Linked DNA regions of Homo sapiens: region 2 is linked to region 1. The links come from fine-mapping of genetic effects on gene expression. Tissue or cell type: esophagus muscle. Region 1 holds a variant in brackets; the other region holds the start of a gene. All regions are shown on one strand. Distances are between the middles of the regions.

Evidence for each region. PIP is the estimated chance that this variant, and not a neighbour inherited with it, causes the effect.
Region 2: it holds the start of MATK, and the variant in region 1 is the best candidate, but not a certain one, in a credible set for the expression of MATK in esophagus muscle (GTEx, PIP 0.68).

What each region holds. Positions count from the first base shown.
Region 1 is chr19:3,900,000-3,904,886 of GRCh38, reverse strand. It overlaps ATCAY (ATCAY kinesin light chain interacting caytaxin), which reads right to left. Exons shown (of 13, transcript NM_033064.5): 3 at 2,342-2,400. Among named protein-coding and RNA genes, the nearest start is that of ATCAY, 22 kb to the right of the region's middle. The variant G/A (reference allele first, on the strand shown) is at 1,881.
Region 2 is chr19:3,783,769-3,788,655 of GRCh38, reverse strand. MATK (megakaryocyte-associated tyrosine kinase) reads left to right here and starts at 2,275. Exons shown (of 14, transcript NM_139355.3): 1 at 2,275-2,487; 2 at 3,370-3,592; 3 at 3,772-3,831; 4 at 4,205-4,318; 5 at 4,417-4,532; 6 at 4,623-4,842. The coding sequence starts at 3,521. RefSeq lists silencers at 1,118-1,316, 3,191-3,485 and enhancers at 3,191-3,485, 2,847-3,842.

The DNA of each region.
Region 1 (4,887 bases):
CTCTATCTCAAAAATAAATAAATAAATAAATAAAGGAGAAGAGACATATCTCTTGTGCAGACAAATTGTGAAAGCAGCCCATCTTCTTCTAGGCTTTCTCTGACTCTCACCCTCCTGTCTCCACTCATGAGGATCCTGTAACGATGTCAGGCCACCTGGATAATACAGGATCCAGGATAGTCTCCTATTTTAATCAGAGTGCTCCAGGGAAACAAATCCAATAGGACGTGTGTGTGTGTGTGTGTGTGTGTATACATATTTTTTTCCTATATGTATGGAAAAAAAGAGAGAGGGAGAAATTTATTTTAAGGAATTAGCTCGTGTGATCACAGAGACTGACAAGTCCTCAATCGGCAGGGCAGGCCAGCAGGCGGGACGCCTAGGGAAGAGTTGATGTTGCAAAACCGTCCGCAGGCAGAATTGTCTCTGCCTGGGGGAACCTCAGTCTGTTTCTCTTAAAACCTTCAACTGATTAGATGAGGCCCACCCACATCACAGATGGCTGCCTGCTTTAATCCAAAGTCTGCTAATTTATTTTGTTTTATTTATGTATTTATTTTTTTGAGATGGAGTCTCACTCCGTTACCCAGGCTGGAGTACAATGGTAGGATCTCAGCTCACTGCAACCTCCGCCTCCCAGGTTCAAGTGATTCTCCCACCTCAGCCTCCCAAGTAGCTGGGATTACAGGCATGCGCCACCAAGCCCGACTAATCTTTTTTTGTTTTGTTTTGTTTAGACAGAGTCTCGCCTTGTCACCCAGGCTGGAGTGCAATGGCACAATCTCAGCTTGCTGCAACCTCCGTCTCCTGGGTTCAAGCGATCCTCATGCCTCAGCCTCCTGAGTGACTGGGATTACAGGCAAGTGCCACAATGCCCGGCTAATTTTTTTTTTTTTTTTTTTTTGTATCTTTAGTAGAGACGGGGCTTCACCATGTTGGCCAGGTTGGTCTCAAACTCCTGACCTCGTGATCTGCCCGCCTCGGCCTCCCAAAGTGCTGGGATTACAGGCGTGAGCCACGGTGACCTGCCTTTTTTTTTTTTCTTTTTAAATAGAGACAGGCGGCCGGGTGCAGTGGCTCACGCCCGTAATCCCAACACTTTGGGAGGCCAAGGTGGGAAGATGGCTTGAGCCCAGGAGTTCAAGAGCAGCCTGGGCAACATAGTGAGACCCCATCTCTACAAAAAACTACAAAAATTAACCAGCCATGGTGGTGTGTACCTGTAGTCCCAGCTACTCAGGAGGCTGAGGCAGGAGGATCTCTTGAGCCCAGGAGGTTGAGGCTGCAGTGAGCCATGATCACGCTACTGCACTCCAGCCTGGGCGATACAGTGAGGCTCTGTCTCCAAAAAAATTTTGTTTGGCCCTCACAGGTTTATTTTCCATATTCTGCTTAACTGAATGTCGTTAAGTGGGGCTGGCTGCCAGGTCCTCCCCAGACCCCACCTCTCCCCACGGTGCCAACCTGGGCCCTTTCCCTGCCTCCGGAGGCACGTTGCAATCGCCAGGTTACGGCTAAAACTCTCCTCTGGCCGCCCAGGACTCCCATCCCCGGGATCTGGGGCTTCAGAGCCTGATACATTATGATTTTTTTCCTCTGCTGAAGAAAAAACATGCCAGGCGTGGTGGCTCACGCCCGTAATCCCAGCACTTTGGGAGGCTGAGGCAAGAAGATGGCTTGAGCCCAGGAGTTCAAGAGCAGCCTGGGCAACATAGCTAGATCCCATTTCTACAAAAACTACCAAAATTAGCCAGCCATGGTGGTGTGCACCTGTAGTCCCAGCTACTCAGAAGGCTGAGGCAGGAGGATCTCTTGAGCCCTGGAGGTTGAGGCTGCAGTGAGCCATGATCACGCCACTGCACTCCAGCCTGGATGACAGA[G/A]TGTGACCCGGTCTCCCAAAAAATGTATATATTTGGGTCTAATATAAGGTATTACACATTAAAATGTATATGTTTAGAGCTCCAGATAGCAGAGCCTCCCAGTGCACCCTTGGCTGTGCTGACTTTGTGCCTCCAGGGCATTTGGCATCACCTCATTTAATCCTTACATGCCCCCTCTGCGAGAAGCTCGCTACCTACATTTAGTAGATGAGGCATTGGGGCACAGAGAGGCTGAGTGACTAGCACAGGGACACACAGCAACACAGCGTGCTGGCTTCATGAGAGCGCCATCATCCATTGTGTCTCTCACCCACCACGGCCACTTCCACCATAGACCCCAGGACAGAACATTCTACCCACGGTGTGTGGCCTCTGACATTTCTACAGTTACAGCCCCAGGCAGGGCTGAAACCCGGAAACACTGAGCCTGTTTCCGCCCTTCTGTGGACGTGGAAACTTACAGGATGTGTCTTCCACCGGGCTGCCAAGCAGTTCCACCCCCGTCTCTTCTGGGAGTGGCCTGCGGACCCATCCAGGAACAGGCATCAGTCGCCGGGCACCAGAGATTCAGGCAGAGGACAGTGGAGTGGCCCAGACAGGTCCAGCCAGGCGAGTCAGACAAGAACAAAAGCAAAACACATTTAGTTCTGGAGAATCACTGGACCTAAATATATACATTTTTTTGGAGACAGAGCCTCACTGTATCGCCCAGGCTGGAGTGCAGTAGCGTGATCATGGCTCACTGCAGCCTCAACCTCCTGGGCTCAAGAGATCCTCCTGCCTCAGCCTCCTGAGTAGCTGGGACTACAGGTGCACACCACCACGGCTGGCTAATTTTTGTAGTTTTTTGGTTTTTTGTAGAGATGGGGTCTCACTATGTTGCCCAGGTTGCTCTTGAACTCCTGGGCTCAAGCCATCTTCCCACCTCAGCCTCCCAAAGTGTTGGGATTACGGGCGTGAGCCACCACAAGCGCATGTTTTTTCTTTTTCTTTTATTTTTTTCTTTTGAGACAGAGTCTCGCTCTGTCGCCCAGGCTGGATGGAGTAGAGTGGCATGATCTCGGCTCACGGCAACCTCCGCCTCCCGGGTTCAGGCCATTCTTCTGCCTCAGCCTCCTAAGTAAACTGGGACTACAGGTGCCCGCTACCATGCCCGGCTAATTTTTGTATTTTTAGTAGAGACGGGGTTTCACCATATTGGCCAGGCTGGTCTGGAACTCCTGACCTTGTGATCTGCCCACCTCGGCCTCTCAAAGTGCTGGGATTACAGGCATGAGCCACCGCGCCCGCCCAGCATGTTTTTTCTTTAGCAGAGGAAGAAAATTATAACGCATCAGGGCTGAAGGGCTTCTTTTAGATAATCAAATTTATATTAAGCCTTTTGGAGATTTTTGCACGGCTTGAGGAGAATGAAGGTTTTTCCCCAGCATCACATGACTTCAAAAACTTTGAAATAAGTTAGTAAGTTGAATTCTCTCTAGGGCGACCCTGTGGGATTTGGTCTCTGATGAGTTGTTGACTCTCAAATGCAGCAAAAAGTATTAAAAATAAATAAATAGATAAAACCCCCACAAAAACCTGAGTCAACCAGAAGAGATCTCTATGTCAATGCTGGAACAGTTTGTGCAACCAAATAAATAATGAAATATTGAATTATAACCCAAGATGTAAAATAAATGTCTATGAGTCCATACGGATATAAATAAGTCACTGAACAAATAAACAGGAGAGAAGAGACACATTTCTTGTGCAGAAGAATTGGAAATAGTTTATGTACAGTTCTGCCCTCAAGAAGATGAAGGATAGGCCGGGTGCGGTGGCTCACGCCTGTAATCCCAGCACTTTGGGAGGCCGAGGCGTGCGGATCACGAGGTCAGGAGATCGAGACCATCCTGGCTAACATGGTGAAACCCCGTCTCTACTAAAAGTACAAAAAAAATAGCGGGGCGTGGTGGCAGGTGCCTGTAGTCCCAGCTACTCAGGAGGCTGAGGCAGGAGAATGGCATGAACCCAGGAGGCGGAGCTTGCAGTGAGCCGAGATCGTGCCACTGCACTCCAGCCTGGGCCACAGAGCAAGACTCTGTCTCAAAAAAAAAAAAAAAAAAAAAAAAGATGAAGGATAACTCTGTGTAGGCTGTGTATAGTGATGTCATTCCAAAAAATACAGGATGGGCCAGGCGCAGCAGCTCACGCCTGTAATCCCAGCACTTTGGGAGGCTGAGGCAGGAGGATCACTTGAGCTCAGGAATTCGAGACCAGCCTGGACAACATGGTGAAACGCCATCTCTACTAAAAATACAAAAATTAGGCAGGCATGGTGGAGGACACCTGTAATCCCAGCTATCAGGAGGCTGAGGCAGGAGAATCGCTTGAACCCGGGAGGCGGAGGTTGCAGTGAGCCGAGATCGTGCCACTGCTCTCCAGCCTGGGTGACAGAGTGAGACTCCATCTCAAAACAAACAAACAAACAAAACTATCAAGGGCATCAAAACAAGAAAGACAGGGAGACTGCCACAGTCCAGAGGAGTGTCAGGAGATGTGATAACTAAATGTCATCTGGGATCCTGGATGGGGTTGTGGGGCAGAAGGAAAAGGACATTAGGCCAGCCTGGGCAACATGGCGTAACTCTGTCTCTACAAAAATTACAAAGATTAGCTGGACGTGGTGGTGCCTGTAGTCCCAGCTACTCTGGAGGCTGAGGTGGGAGGACTGCTTGAGCCTGGGAGGCGGAGGCTGCAGTGAGGTATGATGGCACCACTGCACCCCAGCCTGGATGACAGAGTGAGACCCTGTCTCTTAAAAAAAAAAAGAGAGAAAAGAAAAAAAAAGAGGACATTAGGAAAAACTTTGAAAATCTAAAAAAGCATGGACTTTGGTAACTAATAACCAATATTGATCAATATTGTTATTGATCAATGTTGATTATCAATAACCAATAGTATCAATATTGATTCATCAATTGTGACAAATATAAAATATACACAGCTAATATAAGATGTTAATTAT
Region 2 (4,887 bases), 120 kb after region 1:
GATCCCATCTCTATTTTTTTTTTTTTTTTTTTTTTTGGAGACAGAGTCTCACTCTGTTGCCCAGGCTGGGGTGCAGTGGCGCGATCTTGGCTCTCTGCAACCTCCGCCTCCCAGGTTCAAGCAATTCTCTACCTTGGCCTCCCGAGTAGCTGGGATTACAGGCATCCACCACCACACCAGACTAATTTTTGTATTTTTAGTAGACAGGGTTTCACCATCTTGGCCAGGCTGGTCTCGAACTCCTGACCTCGTGATCCACCCGCCTCGGCCTCCCAAAGTGCTGGGATTACAGGCATGTGCCACCACGCCCAGCTAATTTTTGTAGTTTTAGTAGAGACGGGGTATCACCACGTTGGCTAGGCTGGTCTAGAACTCCTGACCTCAGGTGATCTGCCCGCCTTGGCCTCCCAAAGTGCTGGGATTACAGGCGTGAGCCACTGGGCCCAGCCTACAGATGGGATTAAGTTGATGCTATTGAGATGAGAGAGCATCCTGGATGCCCCAGGTATATAATATAATATAATATAATATAATATAATATAATATAATATAATATAAATATTAATAATATAATATATATAATAGTATGGTTTAACCAGGCACCATGGTGTGCACGTGTAGTCCCAGCTACTCAGGAGGCTGAGGCAGGAGGTTCGCTTGAGCCCAGGCATTTGAGGCCAGCCTGGGCAACACAGAGAGACCCCCAGCTCTAATAATGATAATAATAATAATATAGTTTCCTAGTCTGCTGCATAATGTTCCTTAATATAGCTGTTCTGTAATTCTCTTGTAACTGGGCCTCTGCTCCCCGCAAAATCATGTGATGCCCCCAAGTCCAGACACACAGCCTTTTGGGGTAACAGAAGATTAAATATGGGCGCAGGCCACCTGGGCATCTCGGTTCATTGCCCTCCTAAGATGAACTTCATCTTTGTTTCAGAGGACTCATCCCTTAGAAAGGATGATAAGGTGCAAGGCGTGGTGGCTCACGCCTGTAATCCCAGCACTTTGGGAGGCCGAAATGGGAGGATCGCTTGATCCCAGGAGTCCAAGACCAGCCTGGGCAACAAAGTGAGACTTCATCTCAAAAAAATAAAAATAAAAATACAAAAGTTAGCAGGGCGTGGTGGCACGCACCTGTAATCCCAGCTACTCAGGAGGGTGAGGAAGGAGAATTGCTTGAACCCGGGAGGTGGAGGTTGCAGTGAGCCAAGATAGCGCCACTGCACTCCAGCCCGGGTAACAGAGCAAGACTCCATCTCAAAAAAAAAAAAAGGCAAAGTGGCCAATTCTTGGATTCCTCCCAGGACAGGGAACTCACCCCCTCCTGAGGCTACCCCTTCTATGGCTCTATGAAAATTTGGGAAAAAAAAAATTACCCTGTGGTCCCAGCTACACGGGAGGCTGAGGCGGGAGGCTGGCTTGAGCCCAGGTGGTCAAGGCTGTAGTGAGCTATGATCACGCCACTGCACTCCAGCCCAGGGGATAGAGTGAGACCCTGTCTCAAAAAATAAATGAATAAAAATAAAGATAAAGGCCTGCATTGGGTGAAAGCAGATTGGGCGTTTTGGTCACCCCAACCACAAAGCCATCGCTGGGGGCCAGGGCCCTGTCCACCAAGACCAAGTGAGATCAAACTGTTCTGTGAGGTGAAAGCGGGTGGGGCCCCCACCCTCCATATGGGGGAGGAAATCCCGGCTGGAAAAGGGGTACCTCCTACCTACGGGCAGAGCCAGGTCCCTCCAACTCCCAGGCCCCCCTTTTACCCTCCAAGGAGGGCAGCTCTAAGAAGTTTGCATCCGGATGATTACAGTTCCCGATGATTCTGTTACTCCAATTTTCCCTTAATGTTGATGATTATGATAATGATATTGATAGCGGCTGACATTTTGAAAGCTTTTTTTTTGTCAACCACCAATAGCCCTCTGAGACGGTGGGTGCTCAAATGGGCGACACTGAGGGAGTTGGAATTGCAGAGTACGAAGTGTCCTCTGGGAGTCCGGGCTTGGCGCCTTGCTTATCTCCCCGGACGGGCAGCTCACTCTCCCTCACCCCCGGTCCCCGCCGCGCGCACTGGCGGCGCCCGTTCCACGCTCCAAGAACCCCGCTTCCCAGGGTGGGTGGGGGGTGCACGCCCGACAGGGCCAGGTCAGGGCCAGGCGTGGAGCCCGCGTGCGCCCCGGGACCCCGCCCGGGGCGCGCGGGAGGCGCCGGGGGCCGCGGAGGCGGGGCGGGGAGGGGCCGGCGGCGGCGGCGGCGCGCGGAGGAGACCGCAGTGCGGCCGGCGCTAGGACCCGCGGGGGCCTCCCAGGCCGCGGCGCCTCCCGCTTTCCCCCACTCCCCGACCCTTCTTCGCCCCCAAAATGAGGAAACGGAGCAACTCGCTCCAAGTTGTGCAGCCGGGACCGCCTCGGGGTGTGCAGCCGGCTCGCGGAGGCCCTCCTGGGGGCGGGCGCGGGGCGCGGCTCGGGGGCGCCCCCTGAGCAGGTGAGCACGTCGGCGGGGAGACGTGGAGAGACCCCGAGGCCGGGGTGGGGGGAAACCCCGAGGGCTCTAGGCGGGGGTGGGCCCGGGACGTGCGCAGGAAGGGCCGGTGTGTGCGCGAGTGTGCGCGTCCCGGGCGCGCAGCGGGTGCGCGGCTGGGGCGGAGGGTGCTCAGAGGCGATCGGACCCCGCGTGGTGGTGGCTGGGGTTTCCTGGGTGCGGGTGTGCGCGGCTACGAGCCCCGGGCGTGTGTACCCGCGCGTCCACGTGGAGGGCTGTGCGCGTGTGGCCGAAAAGCGTGTGCGCGGCCCTGCGTAGCGCCCTGCGTGCCCGAGTGGCCCGGCGCTGGCGCCCAGGTGTTCCAGTGTGGGGCGGCTGTGTGTGTGCCGGGGGCGGGGGACAGGTGCGCACGTTCCCAGGTGTGGAGCGCTTGTGCGCGCGGATGCGCGGGGACGTGTGCGCACACCTGTTTCCACGTGGACGTGGTCCTTTGCTTGTCTGCGCGCAGCTGTGTCCGAGCCCTGTGTGTTTCTGTGCGTGTGCATGCATCCGTATGCGTGTGAGTACACGTGGGACTGGAGGATTTCATGGGAGGCGCATCTTGGAGGGGCCGAGACTCACCCCCCAGCACCGCCCACTTCCCAGCCACTAGCGGTCGGGGAGATGGGGGAGGCAGGGAGGCTCCCCCACCCCTGCAGCAATGAGTGACTTTGTGTGTCTGTCCTGGGTTTGGGGGGGGATCAGAGAGGCTCAGCGGGTGGCCGGAGGAGCCCAGCAGGGCTACAGGACCCGCCCCTGCCCCCAGCTCCACCCCACGGTCAGAGATTCTTGGGAATGACCTTGACTCATCCCTATTTCCCCACCCTGCCCCTGCCTACCAACCAGAAAACAGGAAGAACCAGGCTCGGTCCAGTGGCACCCAGCTCCCTACCTCCTGTGCCAGCCGACTGGCCTGTGGCAGGCCATTCCCAGCGTCCCCGACTGTGACCACTTGCTCAGTGTGCCTCTCACCTGCCTCAGTTTCCCTCTGGGGGCGATGGCGGGGCGAGGCTCTCTGGTTTCCTGGCGGGCATTTCACGGCTGTGATTCTGCTGAGGAACTTCCCCGGGTAAAGATCACTTCCCCACAGGGGCTTGGGGAGCCAGTTCTGGGTCCCATCCAGGATGCCTCTGGGGAGGCTCTCTCTGCCTGCCCAGCCATCGCCCCCACCTGACCTGGGCTGGAAGTGGTAGGAACTGGACCGTGGGTCCCAGCCCAGCTCCCACCTGGACTCTGTCCCCTCCCCAGGTGAGCCCCCGCTTCCTCCGAGCCTGGCACCCCCCTCCCGTCTCAGCCAGGATGCCAACGGTGAGTGTGTCTAGCCTGCTTCCTCTGCTCCCCGGGTCCTTCTTCAACTCCGTCCACACCCTGAGACCCCTTCCTGAAGGGCTGTACTCTCTGCCCCCTACCCCCTTCTGCTGGCCTCGGCCTGGCCTTTCTCAGTCATCTTGGCTTCCTGACCTTCTGTCCCAGGCCGCCTCTCTTTGTGACTCTACGATTTCTCTCTGAGCACCCCACTCCCCCTTTCTTTCCCCCGATGTCTGCGTCTGTTTTCTCTGCCTCTCCGCTCTTTTCCAATCTCTATACCTTTCTCCCTCCTGTCCTCTTTCCCCTCCCGTGCCTCTGCTCCCCACATCTCCGTGATGTCCTCCCTTTGCCCCTCTCCCGGCCCCCTCTGCAGAGGCGCTGGGCCCCGGGCACCCAGTGTATCACCAAATGCGAGCACACCCGCCCCAAGCCAGGGGAGCTGGCCTTCCGCAAGGGCGACGTGGTCACCATCCTGGAGGCCTGCGAGGTGAGAGGTGGCCGGCGGGTGTGGGTGCTTGGGGCTGGGGGCTCCACCAGGACCACCCCCACACCCCCCACACTAACCCCGTGCTTCCTCCCTGGCAGAACAAGAGCTGGTACCGCGTCAAGCACCACACCAGTGGACAGGAGGGGCTGCTGGCAGCTGGGGCGCTGCGGGAGCGGGAGGCCCTCTCCGCAGACCCCAAGCTCAGCCTCATGCCGTGAGTGGGCAGGACAGGGGCCTGGGGTAGGGGACAGCAAGTGACCCCCCCTCCACAGCCCAGTCTGACCCACCCCTTCCGTGGCCGCAGGTGGTTCCACGGGAAGATCTCGGGCCAGGAGGCTGTCCAGCAGCTGCAGCCTCCCGAGGATGGGCTGTTCCTGGTGCGGGAGTCCGCGCGCCACCCCGGCGACTACGTCCTGTGCGTGAGCTTTGGCCGCGACGTCATCCACTACCGCGTGCTGCACCGCGACGGCCACCTCACAATCGATGAGGCCGTGTTCTTCTGCAACCTCATGGACATGGTGGAGGTGCTGCCACCCAGAGGCCCCACCCCGTCCCTGCAGTGGGGCAGC